2 separate regions of the Homo sapiens genome follow, and region 2 is linked to region 1. A link means that fine-mapping ties the variant in region 1 to the expression of a gene that starts in the linked region. Tissue or cell type: cerebellum. Region 1 holds a variant in brackets; the other region holds the start of a gene. All regions are shown on one strand. Distances are from middle to middle.

The links.
Region 2: it holds the start of LINC02331, and the variant in region 1 is fine-mapped to the expression of LINC02331 in cerebellum (GTEx, PIP 0.95).

Annotation. Positions count from the first base shown.
Region 1 is chr14:53,946,449-53,949,363 of GRCh38, forward strand. It overlaps MIR5580 (microRNA 5580), which reads right to left and starts at 2,036; the gene lies at 1,979-2,036. RefSeq lists an enhancer at 1-431 and a silencer at 402-451. The variant G/A (reference allele first, on the strand shown) is at 1,572.
Region 2 is chr14:53,849,458-53,852,372 of GRCh38, forward strand. LINC02331 (long intergenic non-protein coding RNA 2331) reads right to left here and starts at 1,369. Exons shown (of 6, transcript NR_184221.1): 1 at 1,238-1,369; 2 at 358-513. RefSeq lists an enhancer at 628-1,827.

The DNA of each region.
Region 1 (2,915 bases):
ATGCAGGCCCACTGTGAGCTCGGAGGCAGGAGAGCCTCGCTCCCTAATTCCCGCTCTCTGCCCCCTACAGAAAACCCCTAAAGGTCTCGACCCCTCTTAAGCCCCTCCACCCCGGGGAGCCTTCCCCTGCAGACTCCACGCTTCTGCGCGGCCTTTTGACCCCATTTCGCATGAAATCTGCAGAGCGACCGCCCCAAGGACCAGCGAGCGCTAATCAGATCCGTCTGTGTCTGCAGAGCTTCACCTGAGGCCTGGGTCCCCGAGGGCGGATGAGCGGGCCGGCTCTCGGGCCCGGGCTGGGGGACCCGCAGTCCGCGGTCGGCGGGGATGGGGAGGGGTGGCCGCCTGCCGCGCGGCTCCCGCGGGCCGTCGCCAGGTGCACGGTCCCCCTGGTCCCCCGCAGGGAGGACGCCCCCTGGTGCCCCCGCCGCCGCCGGGCCTGGGAGCTCCAGAGCGGGCGGGAGGCGGGGTCGGCGGGGCTGGATCTTGACGCCAGTCCAAGGCCGGGTGACTACTGGGGTCTGCCCGCGCCGCGGACGCGCCGAGCCCTCTCAGTGTGGCGCTGCCCGGCGGCGAGGGGGGTGTGGAACGAAGCACGGTCAAGACAGAAAACAAAGTCAGCAGGTCACCTGGCAGGTTCTGGGCGAATTATGCAACGAAAGCAGGGGAATGTTTGATGCGTCCCACTCCACACCCCCCCAACCTTTTTTTTTTTTTTTTAAGCTCCTAGGAAGCCGGTTCCAGTTTAAGGGTTGGGTAGGGATCGACCAAGCAGCTCCTCTGATGTGGTTACGACTTTGCCGAACTCCTCAAGGGCGAGCTTCCCTCCCCATCTTTCTTTCAGTAATAGGAACATTACTCTGGAGAAAAAAAAAAAAAAAAAACATGAATGGGGTGAAATGGTAGGCTTGATCCAAAAGCAACGCCGAGAATCACCCTACGACTTCCGTCAGGTACTGAACTGAATATTAGGCAAAAATAGTAAATGCCGAAACCTAAATCACACACATCCAATTTTTTTTATTTTTTTTTTAATCTCCCCGGGTCTCAGGACTAAGCTTTCAAACAGAATTTAAAGAGTTAACGCTGGCCATAGCTCTTTGTTTTCCATGCTAACATTTGTGGCATTAGGACTATTTTGTTAACTAGGTATATGCAATTCACAGAATTTCACGGTAAATTCCCCAGACCAAATATTTGGCTGAACAAATAAACAACATTATCCATTCCTGAAAATAAGCCAGTAGGAGCGGGGAGGATGGAGGAAGGGGCTGGTTGCTAGAACTGGACAGCCACAGGGCTCAGTACTGGCCCTAGGATAATTTGTTCAAGTACTGGAGATCTACTGGTTCCTTTTCAATGACATCGACGTTTCAGAAAGTTGCTAGAAATTGGGCAAAACAAAATGAGGCTGCCTGAGGGCAATCTATAAGGGGCTTCCCTAAATGATTTATTTGAGCTCCATACCATTAATCAAAGGGGCAGCGACCTGGGGGGTTGGAGGGGTGGGGGAAGGATCCCTTTTTGCGGGGAGTTTTGGAGGAACTGTGTAGTCTTGCTGCCTTTGCCTG[G/A]GGCTCTGATGTCTTCTCTCCACCTGCGCTCTCCGGGGAGCTGGGGTTTTGGCAACCACCCCGCTTCAATTTTTATTGGTTTCCACTAAGCTGCTCCTTTTGGAGGAGTGTAGGACTTCAGTAATTAAAAACAAAAATGAATCCTGCTTCACCCACTCCACTCCCAGGAGCGTATGTAAGAAAGTGTGTACAAGAATGCAAGGGTGCACACCCCACCTAGAAAAATGCAAACGCCAGGAGTGTGCACCACACACATTCTTTGGGTGCACACACCACCAGCAACAGCAATACTACCGCTCATATCTACACCTTCATGATGGAGAAATGCGCTATCAGCCTTCCCCACAGAGAACATACAAAGACACTAAATGTTTCTGCTCCAAAGGGATCCAAAGGGATCTTGGTCTGTGCTGGCTCACTTCATATGTGTGAATTTTCTCAGCACACATATGAAATGAGCCAGCACAGACCAAGATTCAAGGCTTAATTTAGTTGTTGGTGGCAAGTAAGAAAAAGCAAAGGCCTCTCCTCTGCTCCTCTTAATCCCTACACCCGTCATTCCAGAAAGGCATTTATCTGCCTGCTGGGAGCCCTTAACTGAGGGTACATTAGCATCCTCCTTTTTATTAACTTTGTCCAAAAATTGAGCTTTTCCCTTTAAGAAACCCTAGCACAGAACATCAGATCTACCTCTTTCTGCCCAAGTCCAGGGAAGAGGGTGTGAGGGAGGCAGTACAGAGCGAAAAGGAGAGTTGACATTTGACTCGAGATTTCTGTATAATAGTGGGACACCTTCACAGTGCCTGCTTAGAAATTCTGACCCTTTAGTATCTGACCCCATTGTCAACCCCCACCCAGCCCAATCTGTTGGGATCCTAAACTTGATGAAGGCCTTCACATTGGGAAAAGAGGACAAGGGAAAAAGTCAAGAAACAATGGGAAATTCTATCAAGTGGCATATTAAAACAGTAGTCATCAAACTTTTTGAAGGTAGGGTACATTATTTGTTACAAAAAAAAAAAAAAAAGACAAAATAGCAGTGCATGCCTGTAATCCCAAAGAGGCCGAAATGAGAAGATTGCTTGAGCCCAGGAGTTCAAGACCAGCCTGGGGCAACAAAGAGAGAACTTGTTTCAAAAAAAAAAAAAGACAAAAGAAAAAACAAAAGAGTCCTACCTGGAGAAAAAAAAAATAAGTTTAAAAACATGCCTTCACACACACATTATGATGTTAGTGTACAAATTAGTTTTGATTTGGAAATATCACATTGGTACCTGTAATAACTGGAGATACCCTGAGGTATCATGAAAGCAGAGGTGGGTATCATTTTTCTAGGGTTGAGAC
Region 2 (2,915 bases), 97 kb before region 1:
CCTTAGCAGCTTATTTTATTTGTCTCAACAGCTATTTTCAATAGAACTGCATTTTAAGGAACTTAAAAAGCATACTCTCTCCTTCCATTCTGATGTCAGATTGTACAATAAAGCAGCCCACTGTGACTATCGGGACGTAAATTTTACCTTTTAGGGAAGAGGAGTATTGAAAAATGCCAGGGGAGCATCTCCTGGTGGGAGAAAGCTAAAGAAATCCCTGTTTGTTCCAAGACAGGTGGCTAGGCATTCATATATCATACATACTTTCTTCGGGGACCATTTTGCTGAGTCAGCAGAGTGAAATCTGGTGAAATAGATCCACAAATCTCCCACTGGCATCCATTTCCTTCATCTAACCTTTATTGCAAGTAGATGTCTCCAAGACTAGGCATTCATCCATTCTTTCATCCGTCAAAAAATGATGACTTTCTGTGTGTTAGGAAACGAAGATATTTCAGTGAACGAAGCAGGCATGGCTGTTGCCTTCATGGAACTAACAGTTGAGCAGGAAAGCTGGAAAATAAACAAAATATTCCTCAAATAACTAATTCATCATAGAAGATTTCCCCCAGTTGTCAGGAGTGCTGAGTTTGACCGTGTGAGGTTGGGGGAGAAAGATGGTTGCCAAGCGCTTCAAATTCGTACTCTTTCACTATGAAACCAGAGGCAAAGCTGTTTCTACTCTAGTCCCCAAAATTGTAAGGCAGGAGGGCCCTTGATAACCCGGAAGGCTTGGATCACCATCCGCACCCCTAAGAGACCTGATCATATGCCCACCCGGTAGGTTGGGGGTCAGGAAAATATGTTCCAGAGGAGTAGAGATGAGGAAATTTGCTGATCAGACCAAAACAAACAAACAAAAACTCTACCCCTATATTCACATATGTATAGGCCATAAGTATCTGTGGCTTATTTTAAAATCAAGCAGAAAGCCGGTGCAATGTTTAAGCAAGGAAGTGATTGATCAGATTTATTTAAATCGCCCTGGCTGCATTGTGGACAATGGCATGGATATAAACTAAGATTAGAGGCAATGAGAACAGTTAGAAGATTATTTCAGACCAGCGAAGATGGTACCTTGGTGATGGCTTTGATGATAAAAACAGAGTCAAGAGCTATTTAGTAGATGAAATATCAACAGGTGGTTGACTATGAAAGGATAATGAAAAGGGAGAGATCAAGACAAACGGATTTCCAAGTTGAGCGACATATTCAGCAATTCTTAACCTAGCCGTACCTTAAACTCACGTGGAGATCTTCACAACAGAAATTCTGATTTAATTGGTTCAGCAGGTGGTCCAGGAGCAGGTATGTTTCAAAGCCCTCAGATGTTTCAAATGTGTACTCAGGTTAGAGAGTCCCTCTAAATGAGACAATCGTTCCAAGGTAGATAACACTGGACAGGGAGGAAGTTTCAGAGAAAATGCCATGCATTCCATCCTGTATGGATTTTTTTCAGAGAGGCTTGTAACTCTTCCAAGTGAGATATCAAGTTAAGAGTTGAATTACATATCCGGGTGTTAGAGGAAAGATCTAAATTGAAGACAGGTGAAAGTGATTGACATTCCTATTGTAATAGAAGTCATGGTTGAAGAGGCAATGGCCAAGGAAAAGAGTATAGTGAGAAAATAAAAGGGCCCTGAAAAACCTCTTATTAAAGATAGAGGATAATGAGTCAGCAAAAGAGACTGTGAAGGAATGTTGGTAAGTTAGAAGGAAACCAGGAAAATAGGCGTTGCCAAAGTCAATGCAAGAGAATGTTTCACGAAGAGAGTGCATAAGTGGGCTGAAAGCTGTGTTTAATTTTGACAAGTCCTGGAACTCCATCCTTCTCCCAACTGTCTAACCTCTGGGTTGATTTTAGGCTCTCCCCGTGATAAGGCTCTACTTTGCCAAAATAACCATTAGCAGAGAATTATGATTTAAAAGTCAAATTGTGGGAAACTCCAAAGCCCATTTTTTGAAGATTTGGAAAATAATTACAATCTCATTTCAGATACTAGACACAAAAGATAGCATTCTATGTTCACATGCAGTCACGATTTCTAGCACTTTCTTATATTATGTTCACCTGTTTGTGGGCTTGCAATTGGCAAGGATTGCAACTCTTTCAGTGTTTGCTAGCATTCTCTCTGTTGCCAAGCAGACACAGGGCAGAACGAATACAGAGTGATCTTTCAGGACTTGTCTTCTCTTCGGGCTCTTACTGTAACATATACAGATTTTTGTTACTGTCACAGTATCCATGTCATTTTATTTCTTTCATGTGTGTCCTCTTATGCTTTCCATGAGAGCAGGTAATATTATTAGATGAGCTTTTATCTCTGGGGCCTGTCACAGTGCCTAGCACTGTGAACTGAATACGTGTTTGCTGAATGAATGGAAAGTTGCATAATTTTTCTGTGAACTCATGAACAGCCAATCTGCAAATTCCATCTCTAAGTACTCTTTCATCGTAGACTGTAAAATATTGTTTAAATAAAGGATGTGGTTTACCCATGTTTAAATTTTAGGTCCATTTTCTATGGAGTTAGTAAAATCTCATTCCAATACAAATTGTTTAATCCCTTGGTGCCGGGGGTTTTCTGCCTGTAAAATAAGAATGGCAATGCTGATTTCCCCTGGCACTGCAGTGAAGACTGTAGAACTCAGAACTCTACTTGTCTGTAAGAGGTACTCGGGTTTGACAACCAGTTGATCACCATTTTTTCTTATTCTATCTGAGTATATGTTGGTTCAGGCACTGTGAGGGGCAACAGATAAGTTCTCTGGATCTATTTACAGCTGCTCCTGGAGCAGTTGCTAAAGGCTGGGTCATGTTGATTGTGTTTGTTTTTGTTTTTGTTGTTTGTTTGTTTGCTACGGGAGTGATTTTTCTAGAGTTCTCCAGCCCCTTTTGGGCTGGACAATAGGAA